Regions from separate parts of the Homo sapiens genome. Here all the other regions are reported to be linked to region 1. Evidence: microRNA targets listed by miRTarBase, many of them from high-throughput screens and not tested one by one. Region 1 holds a microRNA gene; each other region holds the end of a gene's coding sequence.
The links. Region 1 holds the annotated microRNA hsa-miR-568 (AUGUAUAAAUGUAUACACAC, at 5,704-5,723, shown strand). A microRNA usually pairs through its seed, bases 2 to 8, with sites in the 3' UTR of a target mRNA and lowers its output. Matches are read on the target gene's strand: a 7mer-m8 pairs with bases 2 to 8, a 7mer-A1 pairs with bases 2 to 7 and ends in A, and an 8mer does both.

Region 2: the mRNA of SPPL3 is a reported target of hsa-miR-568. Seed matches in the 3' UTR shown: 7mer-m8 at 7,640-7,646.
Region 3: the mRNA of GNG5 is a reported target of hsa-miR-568. Seed matches in the 3' UTR shown: 7mer-A1 at 6,931-6,937.

What each region holds. Positions count from the first base shown.
Region 1 is chr3:114,311,546-114,322,257 of GRCh38, reverse strand. MIR568 (microRNA 568) reads left to right here and starts at 5,689; the gene lies at 5,689-5,783. It overlaps ZBTB20 (zinc finger and BTB domain containing 20), which reads left to right. Exons shown (of 12, transcript NM_001348800.3): 12 at 1-7,758. LOC124909411 (a long non-coding RNA gene) reads right to left here and starts at 10,179. Exons shown (of 2, transcript XR_007096008.1): 1 at 10,099-10,179; 2 at 8,846-9,072. RefSeq lists an enhancer at 6,246-6,295.
Region 2 is chr12:120,756,700-120,767,411 of GRCh38, forward strand. It overlaps SPPL3 (signal peptide peptidase like 3), which reads right to left. Exons shown (of 11, transcript NM_139015.5): 9 at 10,695-10,712; 10 at 9,564-9,673; 11 at 5,811-8,371. The coding sequence ends at 8,300. Among named protein-coding and RNA genes, the nearest start is that of ACADS, 36 kb to the left of the region's middle. RefSeq lists a silencer at 6,399-6,562.
Region 3 is chr1:84,491,517-84,502,228 of GRCh38, forward strand. GNG5 (G protein subunit gamma 5) reads right to left here. Exons shown (of 4, transcript NM_005274.3): 3 at 10,310-10,454; 4 at 6,809-7,032. The coding sequence ends at 10,329. It overlaps RPF1 (ribosome production factor 1 homolog), which reads left to right. Exons shown (of 9, transcript NM_025065.7): 6 at 3,857-3,939; 7 at 4,366-4,547; 8 at 4,728-4,854; 9 at 5,913-6,836. The coding sequence ends at 5,954. Among named protein-coding and RNA genes, the nearest start is that of SPATA1, 9.5 kb to the right of the region's middle. RefSeq lists an enhancer at 2,580-2,629.

The DNA.
Region 1 (10,712 bases):
TCTTTAATAGAGTCATGACCTGGAGACTGATGGAGAGAAAGAAACTTCCATGGAAGAGAGTGAGCTAAATCATTTAGAACCAAACAAAGGTCACTGGTGAAACATAGGGCAGCATGTACACAGTGCAGATCAGGGTTCTGTATGGCCAGAGCCAACAGCAGTGACCGGTGGGAGAGTCAGACAACTGGCCAATGAATTCAAGTGTTGAAAAAGCCACAGTCTGGATTTTGTTGTGATTTCTGGAGTGGTTGAAACGCCCATGCCCATGGCAAGGAAAATGCTTGGAGGCTGATCTGTTGTGATAGTGCCTTTCTTGTCGTAGTGAGTACTAGATTAATAATTTATTCAGTTACGCTTTTCTGTACCATTGCCTCCAGTCTTCTGAGGAGGTTTGAAGGGACAGTATCCACTTAGGATGAAGGGACAGGATATTGCTCTGGAATGCTGTGATTTGATGATATTTGCACTAGATTCTAAACTCTCCTTTAAACTGGAGCAACTGACTGAGAGAAAAACCAAGGACAGCTCAAAGTTAAAAGAAACCAAAAGCAGTATTTTCTGACAGATACCATTTCTTTTTCTCCTTCTTTTTTTCCTGGAAGAAAACTTCACACTAGTTGGCTACCGAGCTCAACTCTTACCAGTTCTTTCTCTTTATTTTTTGTTTCCATATGGAACCATCTGTGTGAATTAGTCATCAGTTAGGTATAGTTAACGTAAAGAGCCCCTGCCATTGAAACTTTGCACACCTTCTCTGCTTTATTGAAGGCAAGGGCCAGTGGGCAGTGATAGCAGGGGAGGGACCCTCCAGAACCACCCAGCCCTCCAGGAGGCCAATAAGCATGGATATCATGTCAGGAGCTGAGCTGACATATATTTACTCAGAGGACATTGGGGTCTGTAGCTAATCCTAAAGAATGCTCCGCAACAGAAGGAAACCAATGCATTGTAGAAAACAAAGGGAGATGGTGCCCGAAGTCTGCCTGTTTCTCTTCTCTTTTCTTTCCCATCTCACCACCATGTCCTCTCTAACAGAATTATATTTCATCTCATATATTATATGTTACTAGAAAAGTCATTTGGTTCCTTGGTTTCTCTCTTTATCAGTGGGCTGGAAATTCCTCCAAATTAAATATAAATACCAGTAGCAGCTCCCCTGTGTCCAGCCAGTTTCTCAAATGCTGTCCACCTGGTCTTACTGTCCACCTAACATAACTTGGAGGCTTTGGCTGGCTCAACCACCTGTTCACTTTATTTTGTTTTCATTTCCATTTGAACTTGAAGTGAGGCTATGGAAAGGTGGAAATCATGGGCAAGGTTTGGAGGCTGCAATTCTAGGGCATAGCTTGTCAGGAGTTTATATTATCTAAAATATATCTTTCTATACCCCTTTTCATTTTAATCTGTTGCCCTGATTATAATTTCTTTATATTTGTGGTTATTTTTATAAGAATAGAGTCCATTTGCTATGTCTATTTGAGTACTTTTTTTCTATTGTCCCCACATGGATGCAGTACCAACCTGTTAATGAAATATCTTTTTATTATATTATTAATATGTAATTCTACTGTAGACCAAAAATATAAAAACAAATTTGTTCATTTTAAAGATATAAAGAACTAGGGAGTAAAAGATTAAAAGTTGAAGGAAAAGACAGAAGAGCAGTGGTTAACTATGTTGAGTTAGAAATCTAAGAGTAGCCTTACCTGTTTTTTAACCAGTGCTTGCCAATCATACCATAGTTGGAATTATGTAATCTTGGCTCCTTCATACTTATGTTCTATAATTCTTGTTTGTCTATTTGTTTTCTTTGATATAATTGAGGTTGCACATCATGCTATTCTTGGCAATGCCTGATTCTATTGTATTGTACTTTTGTTAGTCATTTCCTTTAGAAAGATGGGGGGAAACGTTTATTTCTTCTTTTAATTTAAAATTTGTTTAATGCACTGGAAATAAAATTGGACATATTTCACTGTTTAAAAAATCAGAAACAAAACAAAGCAAAACCATGAGGGAAAAAAACAGCAAATAAGCAACAGGGGAAAACAGCTATGAAAAAAATATATTTGTACTGAATACACATACAAACTACATCCCACATGAAAGATTAATATCATCAAGTAAGAAAAATACATAGTTTAAACTACAATGCTGAAAATATAAAAGGAACCTGGTAGTTCAATGGGGATGGAGAAAACAGAGCATTCCTCTGAGAGCAGAGATCTTGTCATTATTGCAATTAATGCCCAAACAGGTTAAATGTGGAAGAAAGTATGGAGGAAATAACCCCAGCCTTCCTCATACCACTGGATTTCCACATCACCTTTTAACTTATGCTTGAGCTCCCTTTTGAGAAAAAATATTTAAAAACAAATTGGCTATGTAACAAATTTGTGTGTGTGTGTGTATATATATATGTATATGCTTATATATATATATATATGTATATGCTTGAGAAAGTGGTTTTTCAAGATGTATGTGTACAGTACACACATGGACACGCTTCAGTCCTCTGACTTCCCATGTGCTACCTCATGTGTTTCTCTTCTCATGAGGATTTGCAATGGATAGTTGTACAACCTGGGGACTGTCAGTGACTCATTGGTATCAGCATATGCTAAAGAAGCTCTTGAATCCAATCTTGAAACCTGATCTCCCTTCGTCAACATTCCCCAATACCAAACTGGCCCGTTTACCCATACAAATGCACAGTAAAGGGAAGAACAGCGGTATTTTTCCTAGCCAACTGACTCTATCATTTGTTTAATGTTTGCTGGTTTTTTTCTGGTTTTGTTTTGTTTTAGAGCAGGGGTGGGAGTGGCTGTAACTTCACAATCCTAATACAGTAAATGTTTTGCATCTTCCATGTTTTATGCAAAAACAGACATTTAAATCAATAAATAATTGTGCCCTAGACTGAAGGTTAATGTTTAGGAGAGGAAAAAAATTGTTGGAATTTTTTCTACATTTTTTTGTGAAGAATCTTTTTTGGAAAGGAAGGATACATATTTTTGTTGTGTAATATTTTCTATTTTTGAATGCATTTTATTGGTACAAGACTGTTTTTTTGGTGAAGACATTATTTAAAAAAAAAAAAAGAAAAAAACTAATCGAAAAGTTTGCCCTTAAGGATATGCTGCAGTTTTGAGGTTAAAAAAAAATTACTGATTCAAGATGCGTGTTAAAAGTTGGGATTATATTGTTGTTTTTTGTAATTGTTACAAGAAGAAGTTTGTACCCACTGCTGTTTATTTTGTTTCAGATGAGTAAGTAAAGGGATTGTTCTTGTTTTATTCTTTTTTTAGAGAAAAAAAGCTATTTATGAAATGTCAAAAACACTGGACTGTGAGTTTAAGTGTGGAAGCATTTTACCACCCTGTGTCTTCAACCAATTATGGGAAACCCCTTTTCTCTTCCCCCTACCCCCTGCCTTAGCCTTGCCAAATGAGAAAAATATAACAGCTGTCAGATTATCAAAGCCACCGAAGCCCTGCTTTAATTTTTATGGTTTGAAAAAGTTGGAAAACCAAAGTTAAATTTGTTTCTGAAATCCTGCTGTGCGTTGCCCTTTTTTGTATGACACAGCCGGGCTCTGCCTCTCTATCTCAAATCATTGCCTTCTTAGGGACTGGGGGCCAACCTGATGCAAAGAGAGGCATAAAGGTGGTGAGCCTGAGAGTTGAGGTCTCACGAAGTAAAATGTGAGTGGGACTTCACCCTCTCAGTGGGCAACCACACTTTCCCATCCTGAGATGAGGCTGCCAAGAGAGCACACTGCTAACACTGCCTGAGGAGAGCACGCCTCCTGTCTCCTTCACCCTCTGCTTCTGAGACCCTCCTGTTACTGTTATCATCGTTCCCTAGCCTGGCTCTGCCTTTCTCAGCAGCCCACATTCCATGGATGGGAGCAGGGGGGCAGGGACCCAAAGGAGGGAAATGGCTGTGGGTGGTGTGAAGGCCCCCCAGCCCTCAGGAAGGTGGGGCAAGAGACCACTGAGCACAAGGGATCTTGCCCACCTCCTCTTTGACTCTGTGGATTATCCATCCATCTGCTCACTGTGAAGATGGAGAGGCAGTGCCCTAAGGCTGTTCAATAGCTTTTCCATATTTTTTCAACATTGAAAAAATAATTTTTAAAAACTGTGATTTTTTTAAAAAATCATTTGGCTGGAGGGAAGGGAAAAGGGAAACACCAAAAGCTGTACCATGATGAACTGGAGATATTTAACTGGGGCACTTTCCAGACCAAGACAAACAAATTCCTTTCTGGACTCTAAAGCAGCCGAATCTTGAGACTGTCAATGACAGAAAGCTGAAGAGAGGCCTCTATTTCTTCCTTTTTCCTTTCTTCTGTCTAAAAACTCTCTCTTGTTCCCCTTTTCCAGCTTCCCTTGGACTACTGCCCCAATGGCCCCTTGGACTCGCGTTTCATGTATGCGAGCACACACACACACAAACTTGCAAAATACCGTTTTTCTTAAGGATTGTGGGACCGAATAATATCACGTGCCTTCATCTTTTCCTTTTATAGTTAGATGAACCTCTTCCTCTTTACAATTTTTTTAAAAAGTGATAGGGGAGGTTGATGTGTTAGTGGAAGATTTGGGCATCGTTTGAGAAGTAACTTTTGTTTAACACATTCCCCCTAAACATTGAACACAAACATTTCAACCCCTTCATGACACTCTTTGGACATTTAAAGCATTGAGTAACCATGTACATGACAGCCTAAATCCGTTTGATTTCAGAGCATTTCCTGAACATTGTATTTCATAGACTTCTCTGATTTTTTCAAAAATGAGGTGAGCAATGGCAAGCAGCCTTGTTCTCCCAATTTGGTGCTTTTGCTTTTGGTGTGGGGTGGGCATGGGGGGTTGGGGGTGGTGTGGGTGTGTTTAGAAAAAAGATGCATTCCTGAAGATCTCTGGTGCTGAAGGGCCTCGAGTTCCTTTCAGAGACTGTATTTGACACACTTTAGGTACACACAAACGAATGGTATCACATGCAATATTTTAATGGAGCAATGGGAGAGGCTCTTTGAAATGGGGTTTGCATCTTTTTGTAACATTTTGATTTCTCTGGTGCCTTATTCCTACTTGATGCTGGCACTCACATACCCACAAGAAGCTGACACAGAAGTCAGCCTTAGGCGTGGGGACATATGGGTGATGTTTGAGCATGCAGGGGCCATGGGGAGTTTGGTGTCAGTTGGTGGAGAAGGGACTAGATGGCATCTCTTAGCCGAGGCCAACAGGAACTGCACAAGTCCATTATAGTCAAAGTTAGCAATTTTGATACGTAAACACAATACTTCATTCTTCCTCATCTGAGCTTTCCTTCCTTCTTCCTTTTCTATCTCTACCTTCTCATAAAGGTGCTGCTGCTGCTGCTAAGGTGCCCGGAGTCCAGAATGTCCATTAATCACTCAGGCACGAGCCTGGCACTGCCACGTCAGCCCCCAGCATGACCAAACCCAGGTTTCTCTTGCTTGGGGCTGAGAACTGTCAGATTTTTCTCATCAAAAATGTTTTCCAAGGAATCAGTGGATTACAGTTTTTCTGCATTGAAAATGCACTTTAAAAAATAAATTAAAGCTCCAGACTGTTTAAAATATACAGAGGGAGCAGGGGAAAGTTAAGCATGTGCTAGTGTCTGAACCCAGTTCAGTTTATCTCCAGTTGAAACGATATACACTATATTATGTATAAATGTATACACACTTCCTATATGTATCCACATATATATAGTGTATATATTATACATGTATAGGTGTGTATATGTGCATATATACACACATGCACATAACAAAATCAGATGCTCATTACAAATCCAGATGCTCATTACAAAACCAGATGCTACACAAACAGCAGCAGAGGAAACAAGGTTGGACTCTTGCAACAGATCACAAAAAATAAAAACAGCTACTTGCAGTGACTTTGGTCATTTCTGTATGTTCATAAAGAATGGATTGTAACAAGGAAAAAAAGGAACAGTGTTAGTGAAAAAGGAAAAATGGGCGAAACCATCTTGATCCGATGCGAATGCAGTAATGTTCTATATACCATTTCATCAGTTATTTCTTTTAGTCATGTTGATTTGATTTCAGTTTCTGGCTATGAAAAACATTTTTAAACTCGTCACCCACAACAAACTGAACAAAACTACTACAGTGAAAGCCCTTTTCAGTGAAAGATGTCAGAAACCTCAAAACCTTTGGCCTGACTCAGAACTACCATGTGAAAATCAGTACTCTCTTAATGTTTGAAATAAAAACTGAAAAAAAAAACAAAAAAACAAAAAACCTTTTTTGAAGCACCTTAACGTGGCCATCCATTTGAGAAGTGGGTGCCACTTTTTTCTTTGAGCACCTTATTGATGTGTTTGCTATCTGCTGTCTTTCTGTTACCTGTTGGCTGAATGGCTAGCTGTTAACATATACATGTGCACAGAAGAGATATCTGGGCATGTATGTTCTCAATGAAGTTTACTGTGGTGACTGCTGAAAGGTGAACCCATTTCCTGATTTTCCCGCCGCAGTGTTGTGATAAGATTCGAAGAAACCTTTTTCCCTGCACAGAAATGTTTCTTATCACATTGTATCTTAGTATGGAAAGGAATATGGTCCCTTTTTTGCAATTGCTACTGTGTACACACACACACACACACACACACACACACACACACACTGTATGTTTAGACCTAAAATACACACACCCACGCACACACTGTATGTTTATGTGACCTAAAACATACACACATGCACACACACATACATATCCATTCATTCATTCATTCAAGTGGTGTTTCCAGTGTCTGTGTGTCACTGTTTATGCAGTTTCCATTTCCCAGTGAATTATGAGTGGAGGGCAACTTTTCTAACCAGATTGTCTTTTCAGAACAAAGACCTGGGAATTGAGGAAGAGTTTGGAAAGAGGGAGAGGCAAGGAAAGAGAGCTTTAAATTGAAAGGTTAATTTCCTAAGAGGAACCTGGGCTGAATGACTGCAGTGTTATACCCTCCAATCTTTGCAGGTGGGCATGGAACACTGCTTGTATCACTCTGTGCACGGTATAAATCCATATATCCACAAAAACACACATCCATCCATCAACATATACATGGTTTGGGATGAGCAGGTCAATAGTTTTGAGAGGGAGTTTGTTCCTTTTTTTTTCTCATTATACTCTTAAATTGTTGTCAGTTATCAAACAAACAAACAGAAAAATTGTTTGGAAAAACCTTGCATACGCCTTTTCTATCAAGTGCTTTAAAATATAGACTAAATACACACATCCTGCCAGTTTTTTCTTACAGTGACAGTATCCTTACCTGCCATTTAATATTAGCCTCGTATTTTTCTCACGTATATTTACCTGTGACTTGTATTTGTTATTTAAACAGGAAAAAAAACATTCAAAAAAAGAAAAATTAACTGTAGCGCTTCATTATACTATTATATTATTATTATTATTGTGACATTTTGGAATACTGTGAAGTTTTATCTCTTGCATATACTTTATACGGAAGTATTACGCCTTAAAAATACGAAAATAAATTTTACAAGGTTTCTGTTTTGTGTGGAAGAGTAATTGATGTTGCTAAGAATGATGTTTGTTTTTTTGGGGTTTTTGTTGTTTTTTTTTTAAATGTTACCAGCACTTTTTTTGTAAGTTTCACTTTCCGAGGTATTGTACAAGTTCACACTGTTTGTGAAGTTTGAATATGAAGGAATAATTAAAAAAAAAAAAACTCTTCTCTTGGTTTCCTATTGTGTCTTCTTTATACTGTAGTTTCTGTTTTAGGCAGTTCTCCACATTCTTTCACACATTGTATTCTATGTCTAATCTGAGATTATTTATCCAAACTGAGGACTCTACCTACAAGGCCAGAAAAACTCTGAGTATATTAGTCTTCTCAATACAAGAAGTAGGAACTACAGACAGGATTGGTGATGTCGAAGTCACTTTGAGGAAATATAAAGCAAATTGGTGTATTGTCTTATACATATTCAAACCTCAAAAATGACAAGGATCACTTATTGCTCTACAAATTGATTCACATTTTTTCCTTTTCCACATGCAAATCACAGTCTGCCTGCTGTGGAAATAATCAATCCCATATTATAACACTATGCCCACCTATTCTTGTTTCCACCCATCTCTGTTATCCATGAATCTATCACTGAGTCTCCTTTTTAACTTTTGGGTTTCTCAGCTCCATATGCAAAAAAGGAAAGTTCATGGCACAAAACATGCCCCTCTTTAATGACTTTGGAGACTCATAAGGGACTCCTATTTGGCCCATAGATTCTTTGTTATAGTGACCCTGGCCATAAAGAGCTCTCTGATCTCATCATTCTTACAGAAAGTGCTAATATGGTGAAGAAAACTTATATCTTGTTTGTCCTTGGTGAAGTCAACACAAATTAAATTCACAATGTCTTCTGTATTTCAGTCAGCACTGTGCAATGTATGAATAAAAGAGAGGAAATTATTTCAGCCATGAGAAGGCTTAAAATCTAACAACTAGACATGAAGAGAGGTTTGTATAAAATCAAGAGCTAGATTGTGCCATTCAGACTCTCAATGCCAAGGGAGTTTCTAAACTAACAGGAAGTTGATAATGGCTAGAGTGAGTCAAGAAAGGGTCCAAAGAATAAGCGGTCTAGTTTGGGGACTCGCAAGAACACTAAGCTTTGAGTTGGAGAAGCTGAGTGTGGACAGACATTTCCACCAGTGTGAGGAGCACAAAAATATCCAGGCATGAGCTTGGGATGGGGAGAGTCATCAAGAGACCTCTAGACTGAAAGGATGTCAATAAATTCCTGAGATTTCAACATTACCACTGTGAATTTAAATATTTACTTCTTGCAACTCAATTGCTGAACTTCTAAGTCAACCTGATTGATAGTCTAGAAGTATAAAGAGGAAGAAAATATTTTCATGATGCATAATTTGTCTCTATATCATTTCTGTGAACCAACATCTTCTTAACAATGCCAGCCAGCTTCACCCAAAGTCTTGGATCTCTCTTTGCACTATCCACACACTCTTAAGTTTTCTTCTGTACCTGTTAAAAACATTGTGGTGCGATTTATATACAGGCTGTAATAATTGTAAATGACACATACGCTACTCATATGGTACTTCACAGTTTACAAAGTTTCTCCTTAATATCCTTCATCTTCACAGTTATACTGTAAATATTGTGATGTAGCTATGATTGCACTAATTTATAAAAACACAGGTTCAGAAATATGTGTTTTTCCAATAAAAAACAATAAACTAGTGCCTGAGGTCAGGTTTTCTGAAATCCAATAATATTTATACCATACCATTATTCTCAAACTTGAGTAATGTGTGTATGCCCATATGAAGGAAAAAAAATAGTTTCACAGACCTCCTCAATGGGAGGCGATAATAATAAAATAATTATTCTTATTATAATATCTAGTAATAAATTCATAATATGCATAATTATTTTATTATAGACATTCTTAAATAGGCTCAAACACAACGACAAGTGAACTTACTATGCTTATATCCCTTGTAGAATTATAAAACTACAAGTTACTAATTAAGTACAAGTAAAACTATAAAATTAGTAATGTCTACAATAACAATGAGTGCATAGAATGATGCTTTCCTGAATCTAAGTCATGGCTCACAAAGTTAAGTGTACTGCACACACCCTTCTGAATACAACATCCCTACACTACAGTGTGCAAAGTAAAGCAATTATCGCTTCACTTTCCTGTTAGTTCAATACTGCAAAGTCTTCCACTTCTCCACCCATCTGGGAGTAAATGAATCATTTATAAATTAAGCTTCTGTGCCTTTAAATAAACTTGATTATAATCAAGTTTATATGTATAAACACAAACATAGAGGCTAAAACCAATGACAACACTCTGTTTTAAGAAGGCTATCAACATCCAGATATAGATGACTTCTTTGAAGATTATCATTTCACTTAAAACACACAATGTTTAAACGCTTGCAGAGAACTTGTGGACCCCAAGGCTGTATCTGCAACTCTTAGCTTTCCTTATATCTCAGTTTTTAAGAACATTGATTGATAGATAATTTCAGATACCTCAGTTGCTCCAAGCCAGTTTTGTTGCCTCCATGAAAACTTCTGTGGCATCATTAGCATTACCTGGTGCACGTGTTCCTGGGGCAGAACACAATAATATTAACCCAGCATCTTGCAGCTCACAAAGCAGTCAGCCACGTTCCTGCCTCATCTTCTTAAGAATCTTAGAAAGATAGTAATATTACCATTTTATAAATGAGGAAATATTTATGAGTCTTTGATAGGTTAAGTGGCTTATCCAAAGTCGTGAAACTAATTGCAGAGCTCAGCACTTGGACCAAGTTTCTAAATTCCCTGTCCACTACACTCCATGATTACTTCTTTTTTGATCTCTGTGAAGTCCATCAGAGTTTTAGTCCCAGAGAAGGTGCTCTTCACAGCCTACATGAAGTCAGAATGAATATAGTCTATGGTAAGTCCTGTGATGACAGTCTATTTCTGCATAACCCCTATGAGTTGCAAATTTCTTGACAATTTTGGCCCTATTTACATGAACTGGACCACTTAGCTGCCTCAGATTTTTTTTTTTGAAAAAACCTGAAATAAATAAATGTACAGCCTGCTTTGACCTCATGGTTTGTCTCGATCAGAGGATGGATATAGGAGAGTAGAGG
Region 2 (10,712 bases), not on the chromosome of region 1:
CTTATACATGGTATTTTCTGTATTTCATGTATATTTTAAAGTTGTTTTTAGCCAGAGGATTGATTTGAATAACAGCCCAGTATTACTGGGGATCAGAACAGCAGCTGACAGTTGTTTTTATGTTTTTATGGCTTGTTTTAATATCAGCAGTGGGTTGGGTGTGGTGGCTCATGCCTGTAATCCCAGCACTTTGGGAGGCAGGATTGCTTGAGCTCAAGAGTAGGAGGTTGCAGTAAGCTATGGCTGCACCAGTGCATTCCAGCCTAGGCAACACAGTAAGACCCTGTCTTAAAAAAAAAAAAATCAATCAGCAATAGGGTAGTCATAATTTTAACAATGAAATCCAGTTGCTTTGAATGCCTCAAAGATTCTAGTTTAAGCCTGGCTTGCTAGGAGGCATGCATCCTGGTCCCCTCCTCCTAGGAACTCCTAGTTTGTGTGAGGTGATACCCTCTCATGAGTAATGGTCAACACTGCTGCAGCATTATTGGAGAGGAAGGTGTCGGCATGCCCCTTCTGGACAGCAGCTGGGTCAGCCCAGGGCTTGGCAGCCAAAACCCCAGCTCTTTCCTGCCACCTACTAGGGTTGGTGGATCTCCATCTCCAATACGATGCTGTTTGCATGGTCCTTCCCTGTTTACAGAAACTCCCCACAGTTCTGTATGTATGCTAAACAAGTCGTGTCTACAAAACCTGGCTGTGATTATTTTCTCATAATCTGGGCAATGAGCTCAGTCTCTGGAAGCAGGAAGATCTGGGGCAAATTAGCTGCCCTTGAAACTTTGGGTACATAAAATGGATGATAAAATCTGCCGTTACATAATGAGACTGAAGATCTGAGATGACAGGCCACCATTCTGGCCCACAGCATGGAACACACTCTGCAGTTAGGGAGACCCAGGCAGACGCTGTTGCAAGAATCTTTATTTGCTACAGGCAGTGGATGGATTTAAATGTATTTGGAACTAAGAGTAGGATTTAAATGTATTTGGAACTAAGAGTAGGCCCTAGAGCCATCAGTGTTTATGCCTTACCTGTATTTTCTGGGGTGGAGATCATTTCTAATCCTGGGATGAGGATGGAATATAATGATTAGGGACAGTGTTTAGAGCTTATTCTGCCACTTAGCAATTTGTGATCTTGGGGTCTTGGCGAGTTCCTTTGTGACAATGGTGACAGTAATGGCACCTGCCTTTATTAAAGGGCTCTTGGGAGGCATGACTGACACCCGGTGTGTGGCCATCATTGGCTGGGGCTCTCTCCAGCAGATCTCCCCAGATCTGCTTTGACACCCCAGGCCTCTGAGCTTTCTTTAGGTCATGAGTATGTCCCTTCTCCTTGCTTCACGTTCTCCTCAAATGAAGCCTGGCAACTGTGTCCCTGGCCAAATGATCAAGAGGGATGTGGGACAGGACAGGGCTGAGGACGAAGCCCGGGCCCATCCCTTCAAGGTAGCATCAGCTCCTTCATCAGCGACTTTTGGGGAGGGTCATGGGTCATCCCACCAGTTATTGATCTGCTTCATCAGACGGTGCCTCAGCCCTGATTGCTTCACTGTGTCCTGGAGGACTGAGAATTTTCCAAATGCGTGGCTGGAATCTCCTCTTTCACTCTCTCTAGTCTGGCTACTGTCCCTCTCCTATTCAGTGGACTGACCTGAGCCAAGTGGCTTAGAATGACACTGTGTTTTATTTTAACACAGGATAGGAGTTTGGCCCATGAGTCTTTTTTTTTGAGAAGGAGTCTCGCTCTGTCACCCAGGCTGGAGTGCAGTGGTGCGATCTCGGCTCACTGCAACCTTCACCTCCCAGGTTCAAGCGATTCTCCTGCCTCAGCCTCCCGAGTAGCTGGGACTACAGCCATATGCCAGCACACCCGGCTAATTTTGTATTTTTAGTAGAGACGGGATTTCTCCATGTTGGTCAGGCTGGTCTCGAACTCCCGACCTCAGGTGATCCACCCACCTCGGCCTCCCAAAGTGTTGGGATTACAGGCGTGAGCCACCGAGCCCGGCCCTGGCCCATGAGTCTTTTGTTCCAAGGGTGTTCAAGAAAAACCTAGATGTATCAACTAATACAGGCCCACAAAAGACTGACAGAATGGGAGCTTCACAGTGTAGTAAACTTTTCCCTCAAAACAAGCAGTAAGACTTTAAAGTACACTGAAGTTAAAGAGGGCACATGCAGTGTTTATTATGGAAAAAAAAAGTACAGAAAAATAAAAACGTCAACACTGGTTTGTGTGCAGAATCTGGGTAGAGGTTGATCTTCTTGGCCTTAAGAAGCCAAAATGAGGAACTGCATGGGCAGGGTCACCCACCATCCCCCTCTGCATATGGAGCTTTGTGCTAAGGCTTTCAGTGTGTAGAAGAAAATTTCAAGACCCTGGATGGGGGAAATCACCCCTCAGCAGAGGGGAGAGAACCAGTATTCCTAATGATGAACCGGGAGCTGTGGTGGTTTGAATAATGACAGCGTACAGATCTAATGATTTTAACTGTATTCCAACTCTCTGAGCATTGTGTGTGAAATATATGAGAACACAGTAAACCAGAAGAGCGCCTCATATTTACTCAATACTTTCTATGAGGCACCTTCATCCCCATTTCAGATGAAGCAGCTCGGACTCAGGGGGCTCCATCCCTAACCAGAGCCCCATGGTGGCTGTGTGGGGGATGCGCATGACAAATGCCTTCACACTCAGAGCACCACAGAGCAGTCTTCCTCCTGCCTCTCACTGTCCAGGTCATCTCGCATACTCTGCAAGGCTTTACATCACTGAAGACTTTTTTTTTTTTTGGCTTTAGCTGCTCTATTGGCTAGAACAACTCTTCTTCCCCAATTTCTTCTGTTATCTATTTTGGCAATTCATTGTTCAGGTTAAGAAGTGTGGAGTCACTGTGGAGTCCCCAACCCTGCATCCAATCTGGTAGCAAGTTCTGTTCTTCGCATCACCCTAGTCCAGGCCATGGCCTCTCTCACAGCGACTGCCCCGGGCAGAACGCCTACACTCAACAGGGGAGGGCTGCGGGAAGTGCCAGGAGGCACAAGCGAAGGAGGAAAGGTGGGGCCGGGGCTCCTGGCCAGATGGTGGTCTTGGGGAGGGTGGCACTGCATTCTACCCGCCGTCAAGCCGGCAAGGCCACGACTCATCCGTGCGATGCTTCGTCATCTTAGTTCCTCCCTGCACTAGCAAGCGCTCAGCCTCTTTCTCTGAAATTGGTTTCCGCCTTCCCCAGGGAGCTGTCACAGGATATGTTACTATCTGCCTGGGGATAAAAACCCCATCAAGGCACGACAGCAACCGCAGGTGTGAGGAAATTCAATCTCTAATGGCAAAGGCTCAAACACAAAAGCTAGAAGCTCACGTGGTGGCTACACTCCAGCAGCTCCAGGTGGGCAGAGTGAAAGGTGGCAGTAGCAGGCTGACAGGTGGTCCGCCTGGAGAGAGGCTCTCTGGTGAGACAGAGCAACTGGTGTCGGGATCCCGGGGCTGGATCGCTTGTCTTCAGACATTTGGTTGAATGCAGTGACCATCGTGCTGTCCCCCTCCGTCTCTGTCCTGTGGACACCCACTTCCTGTCTCCCATTCCTCACAAGCGCAGGCCTGCTGCCCACTGCCTGGCGGCTTCCCCACTCCCAGTCTCTCAAGTCTTGCTTCCTCTGCCTAACTGGTTCCCATTCCTGTCATCTTTGGATCTGGTGAGAATCCCAGGACTCCATGGGGGCTGGAGACAGCTCGTGGGCTTAGCTATTTTGGAACCTTCAGAGCCTCTGTTCGCCTGCAGACAGGTGGCGTGTTTTACAGGTTCTACTCAACAGGAAGAAGATGTCTTGGAACTTAAGAGAAAAACTGGTTAGGCAGACTCCAAATGAAAGGAACCAGAAGCGAAGCGGAGTCTGCCGCATGAATTCTTAAGACCTCAGGTTATCTAGGAAATCTACCGCACGCTAAAGTGCTCCTCCGTAAGTGCTGCAGTTAGAATCTTCACAGCCTCCCTGCAGGATGTTTGTATCAAGCACCTGCTAACCACTGGCTCCGTGCGGTAAGACTTCTGAAACCTGTAGTGACGAAAGATCATTGCGCTTGGGGCTGTAGGCTTTCGCTTGTCTTCAGACATTTGGTTGAATGCAGGCCTGTGTCCACCAGGAGCACTGGGCTTCTCCTACACCAACTTGCTTCTCAGCCTTCTCTTCATTGGCACATCCCGTCCAGTGATACAGGATCCCCAGCCCAAGCCTCTGCTATTTACAGCAAGGCCCAGAGTTACGGAGAGAAGGCTGTGGATTCTACTCTTGAACGCACTGTGGCATCCCTGCGTGACCTTGTGTGGGAATGGCTGCCACACCCCCTCCCCACAAGCCAAGCATGCTAAAGCAAGCCCTGCACAGACCGCAGGAGTAGGGGGTCAGGATGTCTGGTTTTGTTCACTGGGGGGCCCAGTGCCTCAAGCTTCACTGAAACATGACTGATTGCCTCTAACGGACAGGAAAGGGCTCTGGATTTCAAGGGAAAGGCTGAGGAGGAAACAGATGATGGCTGGAGCGGGAAGAATTTTGTGATGGGAGAGTCTCTGCGCATGAGACAGTTGGAATCTGAACCTGCAGAAATTTGAGTTTAGAGTTTTGCAGATAGAAAGCACCCTATACATTGCAGGGAATAGGAATAATTTCTGGATTAAAAAGTCTTACCTGGTTTATCCCTTCCAATAAGAGGAAGAAGCTTGAGTTGGATGACTCGATCTGCAGTGCTTCAGCTGACACGTGTTAGCAGCCATTGTCCTAGAAATGATTTCACTGTTGGAAACTGCTGAAGAAATGTGATTCGGTGAAGTGGGGGAGGCTGTCCTGGCCACTGTGCACTGAAGACCAGAAAGAGACCGAGATGGCTTCCTTCTGAGCCTGTACCGCTGACATAGCTCTGTAGAGAAGGGGGTTGTATAAATGATGTCCCTAAGGCATGTACTCCCATGTATAGACACGAGTGCTGCATTCCCAGGCTCTGACGTAAACGCTAGGCTTTACAAAACAGAAACGTACACACAACATGGGATCTGGTGAGCAGTAACGTGAGAGCTGCTAAGCAGACACAGCAGGTTCTATTTTTAACACTTGATTGGCAAAATGGAACTCCCTTCCCCTCCACCCTCACAGAGAACGAGTACTTTTGTTTTTCTTGTGGGTGACCTAACTTACCTGTTTACCCAAGGCCTGTGAGCCTGCTACAAAAGTAATTCAGACAGTAGCTTAGTCCCAAGCCACCGAACCGTTCCTATGCGGGGAGCTGTCACTGTCACATTCAGAAAGCGTATGCACTGTAATAACAGCAATGGAACACACTAGGCTTTGGACAGACTTTACTGTCATATCTTCATTAGCTCAAACTAGAAAAAAGAGTTATTAAAAAGCGGGAGTTCTAGTAACACACAGTCTCTTTGTGAGGAAAAAGGACTTCAGATCAGTGAGGAAGGAATCTGCTGAAATTTCATGAGCATGCCATGCCTAATGCAGCAGACTTCCTAGAAAACCCCTAAACCATGGTATTTGAGAAAACAGAATAAGAGGCGGACCTAAGTGTATCAGGCAGCGGGGAGCAAACGAGCACTGGAAGGGAAGTCTAATGTGTGCTTTAACTGCAGCCACCCACTCAACCCTCCGAGACGAGTAGAGTATTTGCTGTTTCTCTGCCAAAGTTTTAAGGGAGTGTTTTAAGGGCTTTGAAGATTAGCAACTGGAATCCAGGGTGCATTCACAGCCCTGTGTGGGTATTTCCCCCCAAAACCTGCACAGAAGTGAGAATGACAAAATAACGACGTTCCTTCTGTCTGGAATTTAATTTTCTTATGAAAACAAAGACAGAAAAATTAAAATGACCCACTGCCAGGATAACATTTCCTTTTTTTTTTTTTTTTTGAGATGGAGTCTCACCCTGTCGCCCAGACTTGAGTGCAGTGGCGCAATCTCTGCTCACTGCAACCTCCGCCTTCCAGGTTCAAGCGATTCTTCTGCCTCAGCCTCCCAAATAGCTGGGATTACAGGCGCCTGCCACCATGCCCAGCTAATTTTTGTGTTTTTAGTAGAGACGGGGTTTCACCATGTTGGCCAGGCTGGTCTCGAGCTCCCAACCTTGTGATCCACCTGCCTCGGCCTCCCAAAGTGCTGGGATTACAGGCATGAAGGATAACGTTATTTCTACCCATCACTGGCACTTGCCCTTAATCCGAGTCATTTTGGAGCCCCCCTCTCTGTCTCTGGGCCTGCTTAATTAGCTATATGCATCCTCGAGGGCTGAGAAGGAAGGAAGGGAGAGTCCGCAAGTGGATTTTTAGTCTTCACCCAATGCAGAGGCAGTTTTGAGTTCTGTGGACAGCAGAAGCTTCAGTTCTTTGATGTATCTATGACTGGGCCAGAGCTGCAGATGACCAGGTCTGGGGACAGACAGAGTCTTCCCATCAGTCTTCCAGAACAGGGAGGAGATGGCTGGGAGCTCTGTTTGGTACCAACAACCAAAGTGAAGATTATGTGACAAAGGCTACAAAGGAGTCATTTATTAAAAACAAAACCCCAGAAACCCCTCAGCAGGAATTGATGACAACAACAGAGGAATCCAACACCCTGACTGCTTCAGACTCTGTTGACAACAGGATGGGTGCCCCCTGTGAGCTCGATCCACAGTGACTTCAAGCCACAGTGACACAGCACACTAATTCATTACACAGGTCAAGACAGAGGCAGCCACTGGGGCGGGGACCCTTGGGGAGAGGCTGGAACTCAGGGCCCTTCTCCAGCCTTTGTTGTCAGGCATCCTCATGCCAACCGCAGGCTTCTCTTTGCCTCTGAACAATGGGCACCTTCTTACCAGGCAGGGGCTGCTTAGGTAAAGGTCAGCAGACCTAACACTAGTTACTCCCAGAAATCTGGGCTTGCAGCAGAGACCACAGCACAGGGCCAGGCTCTCAGGACACAGCAGCTGGTTCTTTCCCCAGTTACTGGAATTTAGGGCCCATCTCAGAGGGGCATTTGACATGTGTCCCCAACACCCGGTTGTCACCACAGGTAAACCAAGACTATAATCACAACAGCAAGGACAGGATTGTGTTGCTTTTTTCCTTTTTTTTTTTCTTAAAGGAGTGAGGGCATGGAAAATATACAGCACACCAATGAAACAAAATGTCAAAAAAAAAAATACAAAAAAATAGAAAATAGAAAAATGTATTTACAAGTAGTACGTTACTATGATGAGAAAGCACAAAGACACCTGCTGCTATAATACATGCATTGGCTCGAGAAGAAACTACGGAACACCCTGCGAGGGAGAAGCCTAGAAAAGAAAGAAAGGGCCAAAAGGTTTGAACTCTTCATCCCTAATTTGCTACACTGATCAAAACCAAGTAAGGGCTCCTGAAGTCCATGAGTCTATCATCAATCAGCACAAATGCTATACTAGTTTGTAACTGCGGGGTCAGTTGTGAAGGGGAAGGACAGCAGCTTATCCATATACAAGGAAGCCACAGTAAACTGCTCGACATGCTCAAAACGACAGCAAGCCCCTGTCAGCTACACAGCGTGATCTTAGCAGGATTTCATTTTTGTTTATTCATATATATCTATGTGTGTGTTTATATATATATATGTACGTATGTATAAAAACCGTGCCCTTGTTCACTGCCAACACAACATCTGGGTGGACATGAACTCATTACAACAAATTCTTATGTGGATGTTGTAAGAAGTCACTCAATGTCTGTGGATTTAATAAGTCACTTCACACCACAGAAAATATTTAATAAATCCAAAAAAAGGAAAGAAGAATATAACGACAGAAGAGCTTCTGTCTCAGTTCTCTGAAACTGAGTCCCCTATAGGAAACTGGTCCCAAAGTTCTCGAGGGGTCATTGAAGAAACTTCGGTTTGCTAATTTTTTTCATCCTTTTAGTGTTCAAAAGTTCTAGAAAGACTCCTCGCTGTTTTCAGTTTTTAAACAGTCAAATCTCCATCTCCCCCAGAAGGTAACAGTCTGGTGCAGATCCATAAAAACGTGGGAGGAAGGCGCGCTGGGGAGAGGCCTGTCCCTCTTGGAAGGGGCCCCACCTCTACATCCGCAGGAAGAGAAGGAACCAAACAGGGCTCCAGCACCTCTCTCCTGCAAACGAGCTCCCTTTAAATGCCAAATCCAGTCACACGGCAGTTCCTTAAACACAGGTACATTTCTGAGTACCAGGCCAGCTCTAAGAGGAAACAAACCATGAGTTGAGAGAAAAGGACTATGACGGCCATCTGGTCACTTTCCACGTGATCCATCATACTTCCAGGAATCGGGAGCTGCTGGACTTGGAGTGGAAAGGCTCAGACCACATCCGCCGGAGGTCGCCCTGGGAAACAAGGGACTTTCTAAGTTACAGATTTAAACATGAGGCACACACAGCTGTCTGATTCTTTAAAAAAAAAAAATTTTTTTTCCAGGTATGAAGTCTTCCTATATATTGGCCAGGCTGGTCTCAAACTCCTGGGCTCGGGCAATTCTCCTGCCTCGACCTTCCAAAGTGCTAGGATTACAGGCATGAGCTGCTGCGCTTGGCCCCTTTCTGATATTTTTTTTTTTTGAGATGGGTTCTCACTCTGTCACCTAGGCTGGAGTGAGTGCAGTGGCGAGATCTCAGCTCACTGCAACCTCCGACTCCTGGGTTCAAGCGATTCTCTTGCCTCAGCTTCCTGAGTAGCTGGGATTACAGGCACTCACCACCATGCCCAGTTCATTTTTGTGTTTTTAGTAGAGACAGGGTTTCACCATATTGGCCAGGCTGGTCCTGAACTCTTAACCCGCCTGCCTCAGCCTCCCAAGGTGCGGGGGTTACAGGCGTGAGCCACCATGCCCCTGGCCCCTTTCTGATGCTTGATCTGAGATCAGATTGCTTCTGTGGGAAACCAAAGAGCATTTAAATCTTACCCATTCAAAAATAACCCACTATTTTTAGGAGGACTCCCTAGAAGGGGTGCTTTTAGGCTCCCTGAGCAAGAAAAGGGCTTTTATCAACTCTCTAGAGGTAGTGAGTCAAGTGAGCTGGGCAAGTAAGTTGACCTCTGTATCTGCTTCCTCATCTGTAAAACGGGGCTGAGAATAGATATCTGGGAAATAATGTGCTCTTGAACTCTGGTTTTATCATATGCTGCCTCAACACTATTCAATCTTAATTATTCCCAAACTTTAACGTAGTGTTAAGCTGTTAGGTGGCAGGAGGGCACTGCTTTGAACAGAAGCAGGAAGTACCCTCAGCTGGGCTCTGGGGCTTTCAATTAGTTATTCCTCGACCAGGTGGTGTAGTGGTCTAGCTCATCAGCATTTTCTGTCAGTGGCTGCACGAATCTGGAAGCGTTTGCTAACGCCAGGGTAGCGCGCGCGCGCACACACACACACACACACACACACACACACACACACACACAGTCGAGATCACAAGCTCACTCAGGGGCTTAAGCAGAATCACCTCCAGCGAGGAGAGTGCAAACCGAGGCACAGGCCAATCCAAGTTATTGCTTTCACAGGTTTATAACTGCTGCTCTCACCTTTAAATAGGCCATCGTGAGGAGTGGCAATAAAGTAAATGGCACCAAATAGAGAAGGGCGGGCTGGGCGGCCCGGTGAATGCGAGACGCCACAGTAGCAGTGAGCAGGCCTGTGAGGAGAGAGAGGCATCTGTGAGACACGAGAGGGAACCCGTGTCACCTGGCTGCTGCTGGGCAAAGTCCTGCAACTGTACAGATCTAATGTGCTGTCGTCCATTCTATGGTTGGGGTGTGAAATGCCCAGCTTGGGCAGTTGAAGAAATGTGGATCAGCACAGCTTTAAAAAACACCTACAACTCCAAGGACACATGACTGACCCAAGTCTCACTCCTTGCTCAGGTTCCTGGGTTCAAACCCTCCTTCCAGCTCCAAGTGTGCCTCTGTCTCCTGTGATGCTGGACTTGGGAGGCAGAAGACCTGGGTTCAAGTTCCAACTCTGCTACTCACAATAGCTAACATAAATGTAGTTCAGACCTTCCACCTCTCTGAGCCTCAGCTTGCTCATCTGTCTAATGGGGATAATGCCACTTGCCTTGCCCCTCTGAGTTTGTGGACTGAAATGAACCCATGTGAATGAACTGCTGTGGGACGAGGACAGTGCTGGGGTTGAGGAGGACGTACGGAGTGCAAAAGCTCCTTTCCAGTCACTGTGCGGGAGCAGTTGCATGTGCGGGCAGGTTACTGCTTTTCCCAGCCCCATCACAATCATCTCCTGTCTGCCTACACATGAGCTGGCTACAAAACTTGGCCTAGGTCAGAGTGGCAGAAATGTAGAACTAATGAATGTAAGTAAGTATCTATTGAATAAAGTAGGAAATAAATACGACAGTCATTCAACTCTAGAGGAAGATTTAAGCACAGACTAATCCACTGCACTGTGTGCTGTGTGTCCTTGGCTTTGAGGACTGACCTGCTTTTCCTACAACGTTCTTCAGATACACAGCTGGAGAGGGAACTGGCCTATCCAGTACACAAAACACTTAGCATCTCACGGGCCAGGCTGTCTATTACAGCACCCAGAATTCCTGCTCTCCTTCCATCCAGTAACTGTAGCTAGAAGACCTGATTTAATTCCAAAGGTTGGAGGACAGCCAGAGCGAGGATCATCTGCAGTCTCTCTGGTTCTCTTACCTACAAAGTATCCGATGA
Region 3 (10,712 bases), not on the chromosome of region 1:
ACAAGCTTTGTAATGTGTTTTGTTGGCCATATTATAATTTGGCTTAACTGGATTAATGTACCAAAATATCTAAAATCTCTTGAATACTTAACTACTCCAGAAAAAAATTATTTTTAAGGTAGTTGCTGCCTCTTTTTCTTTTTTTAAACTGCCTCCACAAAGTGGCAAGGTCTGTTTTCCTCTTTTTATTTTTGGCAGTTAAAAAACAACTGTCATCACTTTGAGGCCACTAGTAACTCTGCTAAGAAGCAGGCATTCATCAATTCAATAAATGTTCTATCCCTGTTTTATCCAGGGTGTTTTATATAGTCACACAAATTTCACTTATACCATCTATTGCCTTTAAAAAGTTTACATTTTCTGGCCGGATGCGGTGGCTCACACCTGTAGTCCCAGCACTTTGGGAGGCCTAGGCCAGCAGATTGCTTGAGGTCAGGAGTTTGAGACCAGCCTAGCCAACACAGCAAAATCCCATCTCTACTAAAAATACAAAAATTAGTTGGGCGTGTTGGTGCATGCCTGTAATCCCACCTACTTGGGAGGCTGATGCACTAGAATTACTTGAACCCGGGAGGCAAAGGTTGCCATGAGCAGAGATGGTGCCACTGCACTCCAGCCTGGGTGACAGGGCAAGACTCTGTCAAAAAAAAAAAAATGGTGATTATCCTAGAGACTTAGCATGGGTTCAGGAATAAAAATCACAACTCCTAATGGTGACACATGGGGGGAAAGTTGAAAAAACAGGATTTAGCCTGTGGGAAAGTAGATTCTAGGAACATGGCGTCTTTCTAAAGACCATTGGAGGGGCTACTGTGTGGAAGAGTAGTGCTGAATGGTGAAAGTTAAAGGGATATACTTTTTTGACTTATTCTAAAATAGAATTTCATCAGCTGTCTAAACTGTAGAAACCTAGTAGTGGCTTTGAGTCAGGGCAGCTGTGATATCAAATACAGATTCCATTATTTTCTAGTTTTGTGATTTTAGTCACGTTTCTTAGCCACTCAATTTCCTCGTTTTTTAAATGTGGGAAATAATACCTATCTTTAGAGTTCCCACAAAGATCACATTAAATGTATTATGTTTATAAAGCATAGTGTCTGGCACATGGTAGGCATTTTAGTAAACGTGGTATAGTGAGAAGCATGTAAACTTTATCTGTACAGACCTACATCCTCTATTCATTATTTCTAAATGGGGAACTACTGTTATTTGAGGTAGGGTAATTATTTGTGCTACACTCTTGGCAGCTTCCAAGATGGTTTGCATTCCTGGCCTTTGGATTCTAAATGCCAGTAACACCTCAGTCATACTGACAAACAAAATGCCTCTGTACATTTCCAAATGTGAGCAGCTGTCAGCAGGGGGCTTAAGCTAGGTGCAGTCCCACCGTGGTTGAGATCTGCAGTTGCCTTAGTCTGATTTACTTAGGCTAATTTACTTGACCCTCTTCAGCCTCTTTTCCTCATTACTGAAATAGGCATGATGACTCCTGTTTTATGTGATTTGTGTTAGGGATTAGCAGTAATGTAAATAAAGCCTCTTGCACAATGCAGGTACATGGGAAAAGAAGTTATTTAGAAACTGGTAAGTTTGGGTTTTGTACTTGGCTTTTGACACAGACCACAATTTAGTGGGAATGTTCTAGAAAGGATTTAAGCCTTGATTTGGGCGTTGGAAGAAATGACTTTTATATCTCCTAGACCCCTTAATAAATACTTTTGGCTGTATTTCATGAAGTTTAGCCTGTGGTGAATCTTTTAAAATGATAGAATTCAAACGTTTGCTGATAATCTGATGCATGGTAGGCACTACTATCAAAAAAAAAAAAAAAAAAAAGATCTGCCTGCAGTCCCAGCACTTTGGGAGGCTAAGGCAGGTGGATCGCTTGAGACCAGCCTGGGCAACATGGCAAAACCCTTTCTCTACAAAAATTAGCTGGGCATGATGCCTGTAGTCCCATTTACTTGGGAGGTTGAGGTGGGAGGATTGCTTGAGCCCGAGAGGTTGAGGCTGCAGTGACCCATGGTCGTGCCATTGCACTTCAGCCTGGGCTGCTGAGTGAGACCGTCTCAAAAAAAAAAAACAAAAGAAAAAAATTCCCATCCCTACCTAAGTTTTAACAGATTAGTTGGGAAGAAAGGTGTTTTCCTAACTCAAAAAGTGATGAGTGCTGTGGTAGCAGAACTGAGAAGATTTAGATCTTAATTCTGACTACATAAAAAGGTGACATTTGAAGTAGACCATAATAGATGAGTAAAACGTTGCAGGTATTCAAAATAGCAGAAGCAAAAAATGCATGCTAGGATTCACATATATAGTACATAAGACTGTGAGTACCTACCAGTTAGGAAACAGGCTTGATGTGGGCATAGGGTAAATAGGTTGAAAAGGTAATTTGTGGCCACATTATGAGTCTGATACTAATGTCTTTTTTCTGTAGATGAGTCTGTGATGAGAGTAGTATGAAATTAGCTACAGCTGTCAAGACTGTGAAGGTATCTAGTTTGTTTTTCACTTAGCATGTGAGAAACTATGGTACAGATATAATGAAACAGCTGAGTCCCATAGCTGGTTACTTATAGAACCAAGGCCTAAGTCCAGACTTGATTTTACAATCTGCATTAGGAGATGTACTTGAGATGGTGAGAAAAAGGTCAGACCAACCACAATACTACCTTAATAATCTAGGTGGAAAATCTTGAGGACCTCACTAAGACAGTAAGGGTAAAGAGGATGCTAAGTGAGAACTTCTGAAGGTAAAAGCAGTTAAGATTTGGTGGGAGAGGGAGAAGCTGAAGATACCATAGCTTCTAATCTGGAGGAATGAGTGTTGATGCCATTGTAAAAAGATGGCAACATCTGCTTTGAAAGATACATATTAAATGCAGATAGACTTGAAACCATCTGATTCTGGCCTATTTAAGTTGTTGAATCAGATGAAATGTGTTTGAAAATTTCTCCTAAACTAGAAAAGCATAATACAAAGTGAAAGCCCTGTCCATTGTCATTAATATGCCTGCTTGTAATGCCATTAAGCAATAGCCAAGAATTACTCATGAAAAGTAAAGGTGTTTCAAGTGAAGGTCAGATTGTGCCACAAACTTGAAGAATATTATATAGGTAGCAACCTTAGTTTGCAGCACCCAGGACTTCTAGAGTCCTTGGGCTGCTAGTCCTGCTGGTTGTAGGTAGGTGATCTCACATTTCATTTGTAGTTTAGCATGTCTAGCATAATTCTCAGTTCATGGGAAATGACAGTCAGTGAATGGCTATTAATTGGTTTGTTGATTATAATTTGGGGTACAGTAATCCTAAGTAAGGGGTGATCTCTTGCAAAATACTAATAACCTTAATTTCATAGAGGAAAGTTTAGGAGTCTGGTCTCATGGGATGTTATTCAAAGTTGACAGCATATCGTGACCATACAAATGTATAAAAGTGACATTTTGGGGTTATACATCTTTAGAACGTGGAGGTAAACTCATACTCTATTTGCAGTGTTACATGATTATAGAATCACATCCTATTTTACTCCTAAGAGTAGTGGTCAATTAAATAGCTTTTTTTCACCTACTTTAGTTTAGGGTACCTTAAGATACCCTATTGAGCGTGATTAACTATTATATTGTAAAAAGAGAAAAAAAGGACTACTCTAGGTTAGTCTATATTCTTGAAAGATTTTGACTGATTTTGAGCTTTTGATATGGTAGGAAAATGTCACTTCAGAGGAATATGTACATCTGCCTATTCACTTGGGTACAGATTTTAGGGGCCTTTGGATGTAGAGGACCAGTTATTTAAACAATTAGATTTAGATTACAGAGTTCAATGTGTTTTTCTTAACTTTTATGAACAGATGGACTTATTTTGAGTCACTTGCCAAATGGCCCAACTGCTCATTTTAAAATGAGCAGTGTTCGTCTTCGTAAAGAAATTAAGGTAAGTTTTATACATTTCTTTGATTGGCATTGATCTCTTCACAATATTTATTTGATCAATAGATGCTGTATCTTATAGCTCTAATTTATTTTAATAATGGCATTTGTTCTCCTGATTAGAGCAGTTTTTAATCTATCAATTCTCTTGGGAGACTGTGGTTAAGTTACAGCCGGCAGGCAATAGTCTTCATTACTATGAAGCACGTTGATTTTCTAATAGGATTTTTTTGTTGTTGCATTCAGTGCATATTAAAATAATTTTAGATACATCTTATTTCATGGGTTTGATAAGCCATCTGTGGTAGTTTGTCACTAAAAAATACATTTTGCAAATTTGTCATGTAAATTTTGATACTTGAAATTGCATTGGGACGTATTGCCAATTAGCTTAGCCCATTGTGATATTTATTTTTCATTATTTTTCTAGAGAAGAGGCAAGGACCCCACAGAACACATACCTGAAATAATTCTGAATAATTTTACAACACGGCTGGGTCATTCAATTGGACGTATGTTTGCATCTCTCTTTCCTCATAATCCTCAATTTATCGGAAGGCAGGTTGCCACATTCCACAATCAACGGGATTACATATTCTTCAGATTTCACAGGTGAGGAAGGTAAACTCATTGAACTTTGATTTCAATTATGAAATATATTTTCAACATGAACTAATTTTCCAACATATTGTAGCAAGTATCATACAAGATAAAATGAATTATCTTTTGAACCCTGTCATAATGTTAAACAATAGCTCATTCAGACTAATTTAACTCTTTTTGTCTTTGAAGATACATATTCAGGAGTGAAAAGAAAGTGGGAATTCAGGAACTTGGACCACGTTTTACCTTAAAATTAAGGTCTCTTCAGAAAGGAACCTTTGATTCTAAATATGGAGAGTATGAATGGGTCCATAAGGTATGTGCTTATTGTTTAAAAAGACTAAGTCATTTTTAAAGTATGGGATAAGAGGGTGGGAGGAGAGAGAGCATCAGGAATAGCTAATGGATGCTGGGCTTAATACCTAGGTGATGAAATGATCTGTGCAGCAAACCACTATAGCACGTTTACCTATGTAACAAACCTGTACATCCTGCACATATACCCTTGAACTAAAAAAAAAAAAAAAAAAGATACAATATCTGGGTCTGGTGATTAACCTTGGCTCATCTGAAGTATAAACATTAGTGGTTCTCAAAGCGAGACCAGCACCATTACCTAGGAACCTATTAGGAATGAAAATTCTTTGGCCCACAGACCTACTCGATCAGCAATTTAGGGGGTGGGACCCAGCAGCAATCTGCTTATAAGCCTGTGTTATATGTGACTCTACTACATGTTTCTTGAGAACTATTGATAAGTTTTCTTAGAAGTTTGGAGATCATCATCTTAAATCATAAATGAAAACTTTTTTGTTGTTGTTGTTTTGTTTTTTTTGAGATGAGTCTCAGCTTTGTTGCCCAGGCTGGAGTGCAGGGGCGCCATCTCGACTCACTGCAACCTCCACCTCCCGGGTTCAAGCTATTCTCCTGCCTCAGCCTCCCGAGTAGCTGGGATTACAAGTGTGCACCACCACACCGGCTAATCTTTTCTATTTTTAGTAGAGAAGGGGTTTCCCCGTGTTAGCCAGGATGGTCTTGATCTCCTGACCTCATGATCTGCCTGCCTCAGCCTCCCAAAGTGCTGGGATTACAGGTGTGAGCCACCGTGCATGGCCTAAAACATCCTTTTCTATCTAGTATAAGCAGTACTTCACTTAGTAACATTTTACTTTAAAATCACACACACACAGTAACTGCCAACATCTTTTATATTAGACCGAAGACTGACTATTCGGGGTCTCGCACAAACCCGGTTTTTCAGCACTAGTGTTACTTATGAAGATCTAGGGACGTTAACTTTTACTGTCTTACCTGAATTGTTAATTATATTTTTGTTTTGTTTTCTTCCTCCACTCCCTTGCTTTCCACTTTCAGCCCCGGGAAATGGATACAAGTAGAAGAAAATTCCATTTATAAAGTACTGAGAGAATGATATTGGATTTTGCTGAACAGGCCTATCTTGAACTTTGGTAAATTATTTTTGACAGAATACTCTTTTCAAAATGGCATTTGCTGATTTCATAAACCTTTCACGTCTGGACGAATTACCAAATGCCATGAATTGCCACTGTGTGTTTATGTAGAAAATACAAATAAAAGTTATTTTGATGGCTTAGGTTTCCTTAAACTTAGTTCTCTTGTTTTTGGGTAACTGTGAATAATTAAGTTGGAATCAAGATTCAGATTAACTTTCCTATTTGCATAGAACACATGAGAGGAATAAAATGGTTGGTAAATATTGGCTAACCCTTGATTTTTATACCAGATTAACCTTGGATTCCCAGTGTCTGGCACAGTTTTAATAGCTTAAATGGAGGCCAGGTTTCTGGATGTTTTAACATTCTCTTAAGCCTTCAGAAGGGTAAAAAATTTAAAGCAAAATGATCTACCAGGGTTTAAAGCAAAGTTGCAAATTACTGAAGCTAATCTTTGCTTCCTGATTTTGAGGTTTTTGGTTTTTTGTGCCCACGTTGTGGGGAGCTCTTTTTTACCTCATTACATGGTGCTGTAGTACTCCATTCAGGCACTGAAACAAAGTTAACCCTATAAGTAACTCATGGATGGAAACCCGTAGAACTTAACAGCCTCCTCCTGACCTTAAAAGAATAAAGGTTCACAGTTTACCTTTAATTCCCTAGCAGTCTTGCCAGATGTATGGCATAAAGTCATGTGAGAAGAGTAGGTGGAAAAAACTGTACAAACTTAACCCCTTCAGGTGTTCAGAACAGATTAATATACCATGTATTTAATACCAATAATAATGCAAAATAAAAGTTTCATACTAAGTTTTATTGTATGCTGCTGCCAGTGTATATAAAACAATTACCCTTGTGAAATAGAAATTCATGAAAATTCAGAGAGGTAGATGTTAAGGACTGACGAAAGTAGAAGTTTGTATATTATGGCACATGTGTTACAGGGATAAGCTTTTGTACAGGCTTCAAATGTAGCTCTCTTGAATATTCACTGGATCATAAGGAGTGGTTTGGGAAACCTAAGATGGGGAAAAAAAAAAAAAGGTGAGTTAGGGTAAAGTATCAAAGAACATAGTTTTTAATTTTTTTCATGAATAACTTAAAAGAAGCAGGATGGGAAATGCCTATGGTCCAGTAACAGTAAAATCTTTCCCTTAATTTTCACAACCACTCTGATGTATAAGTCATTCCTGTTTTATAAACAGACTTACAGATTAACTTGCTAAGATTACTGCCAAAATACATTCTGTATATAATAAAAAAGGTTAATAAAACTCTCTTAAATCAAAAATCCAAACATCCTTAGAAAAATGAGCAAGACTATATTTAGCAGGGCAGTTTGGCAGTATCTAGTGAAGTAAAGGATGCAACCACACTTCTAGTTACCTAGATAAACCCAGACATAGAGAAACATGTACAAGGATACTGACTGTATTAGTATTTTAACAGCAAAGAACTGAAACAGCCTAAATATAACTCCGTAGGAGAATGGATAAACGAAGGTTTCTACATATGATGGAATACAAAGCTATTATAAGTTATGCCTTAAAAAATAAGTTATGTTTTCAAACCATAATATTTCAGTTTAATAGAGTATAAACTAAAAGATTTAAAAAATGAAAACATTAAATTGAAAAACAGTGTACTAAAAAATTAAAACATGAGCATACTAACTTTAGGATTAGTTATTGATATGGAAAGGTACAAAAGTGTTAATCTGAGATAGTCTGTGACAAAAATGTTGAAAAGGCATAAACAGAATGCTGTGAAAAATGTTTAATCTCACCTAAAATAGTGACAGAAAAGACTAAGGTTTGTTAGGACTCAAGGAAAAAACATTCTCATGTTTCTAGTGGAAGGCCAAAGTATTATATTGGCAGGGGATATCAAGTACAACGTTGTAAAAATGTTAAACGTTCACTCCTTTTTACTTCTAGAAACTTAATAGAGGTACTAAGTATATATAGATGTTCACCAAAATCTTCACCTCACTGTAACCTCAAATTTTGGAAACTTAAATATTCAGTGAAGTATAATTCCATCATAGTTTAGTACAACCATTAAATATCTTGTTTACAAAGAGTATTTAATGAAATAAATTCATTTAAAAAAGGCAGAATGAAAAACGGCGAATACTGTCAATAAGCCTGTCGTCTTATCTGCATTTTTTTGTGCATACATGTTCTACTGATTAACAGTTTTTAATCCTGTGTTATTCTATTTTGTTTTGTGTAAAAGAGGAAAAATTTCAAAAGCTGGAATCTCAAAAAAAATAGTAAAATTTCCTCTTAAAAGGAAATACAGGGCCGGGCACGGTGGCTCACGCCTGTAATCTCAGCATTTTGGGAGGCTGAGGTGGGCAGATCACCTGAGGTCAGGCGTTCGAGAAACGCTGTCTCTACCAAAAATACAAAAAGTAGCCGGGCGTGGTGGTGTGCACCTGTAATCCCAGCTACTCAGGAAGCTGAGGCAGGAGCACTTGAACCTTGGAGGCAGAGGTTGCAGTGAGCCGAGACTGCGCCACTGCACTCCAGTGATAAAACTGTATTTATATACATAACTCCAATGTAGATTCTTTACATTCATGCCACTCAGTGTAGGTCCAGTACTGTCAGCATCAGTGTAGGTGGGCAGTTGTAAGAAATGCAAGTTCTAGGGACTCACCTCAGACCTTCTGAATTAGAATTTGCATTTTAACAAAGTGATTTGCATATATTCAAGCTTGAGAAGCAATGCTTTGATGCCCAATTATTATTCTCCTAGCCCAAACTGCTGCAAATCTTAATATCCACAAAGCTGTTTTCTTATACTGCTGGGATTAATAGACATTATTTTACCTTCTGGGTTCTTACCCCCAGCCATATTTTTAAACTTGAGCAATTCATTTAAACACTTATCTGTAGATTCCTATGAAGTAAAACTATTAACAGCTGCCCAGTATTTTATTCAAATGAAAATAAACCACTGTAAAGTGAATACAAGAACTGAGGTTAAAAAAACAATCATTAATAAACCATAAAAATATGAAACTTCCAAAAACTACCATGAAGAATTAAATGAATAGTACCAGAAACAAAGGATATTATAATAAACTGTTAAATATGAAAGTGAATTACTTCTTCATGTGCATTTTTGTGCACATGACACCTGTTTTCAAAGGGCTTTTTTTCCCCCTGGTATTTCAAAAAACTTAAACATCTTAACCAATCATTGTATTTACTGGAAACATGTACTTATACAGACTTCCTGGACACTCCCAGGTCTAGGAAGCTTAATTAAGGAGGGCACAACTATGTAACAAGGTATTTTAGGAAGCAGCTTCCTGGACTTTGGAGAAGTCAGAAAGTTAGTAAGGGGTGTGTGCCATATACAAAATCTTTTTTAAAAAAGTACTATTAGTTTAAGTTTGCTTCTCATAGGTCAATACTAATGAGTACATTCCCTAACTAAAGTACTAAGAATTTATAAAAGGCAGCACCCTTCAGTTACATTTTAAATGATCCAAAACGTTTTTGGTCACATCTCTTAGATTAACATACATTTTGTACACATGACATTTGATCTGGAAGGCACAAATTAATGTACTGAAGCATGCTTTAATAAAGCCAACAGGGTCTTTAGTTTTTAATTCTCTGAAATTCAGTCCACTGTCTGTTTGCCACCAAGAACTTATATACTGCATTTCCTTCATGTTTTATCTTTAATCTAACAAATGAGAACAAAATATAAAGTCTGTTCTACCTCAGTCCAAACGCCTCTACCACACTGGCTTACTCAATTACATCTGACTTTCTCTTGCATTTCCAATTCCCAATCTTTGCTATACTGCTCTACAGCTGGGTTCAGTTAGAGCAATAACATCAAGAGTTAATCCAAATCAGTTGGTAGTACTTTAAGTTATCCCCATAAACATTGCAGATTTTTTAAAAACTGTCTAAATATTTGCCAGGTACACAAAAACAAAACTAGTACTTGGGGACTCCATTAGGCCAATGCTCTAAAAAGTAACACATGGCTTGTTACGGCAGTGGGATTTTGTAGTAACTCTCCTATACCCTCTTTATGGTTATTAAATCCTCTACTTAACCTTCTTTATGGTAAAATAGAAACGATTAGCCTTCATGGCTACTAAGTCAGCAAGTTTCATGAATCCTCACTTTCCTTGCAAAACAGAAAAATACTGGAAATGGAGGGCCAAAGGAAAGGGCATGGGATGATCTTTTAAGTGCTGCAAAGAAAGAGAAGACTAGTTATTCCTACAGTGTGGGTTTTTGTTTTAAATTTAAGGAAACTTACCTTTGAAAGATTCATTTTACTACAAAAAGGAACAGACTTTCTGGGGTCTGAAGGGATTTGTACTTGAAGATACTCCAGTCAGCAGAGGGTCATGTTGAGCATTCTGCAGACAGAACTGTTTCAAGTCTGCAGCTGCCTGGGAAACCTATACATAACAAAGAGGGGGGGAAGTGCCAGATGGTGAGAACATTTTAATGAAGGTTTTCTCAATCTTTGGAAATATTGTACTTACAATAAAACAGTACTTCTCTTGCTTCAAAAGAAGATACTATATAATAATTGAAGACTTAAGTCAAATAGTGAGCTCTTTTTTTTTTTTTTTTTTTTTTTGAGACGGAGTCTCACTCTGTTGCCAGGCTGGAGTACAGTGGTGCGATCTCGGCTCACTGCAACCTCCGCCTCG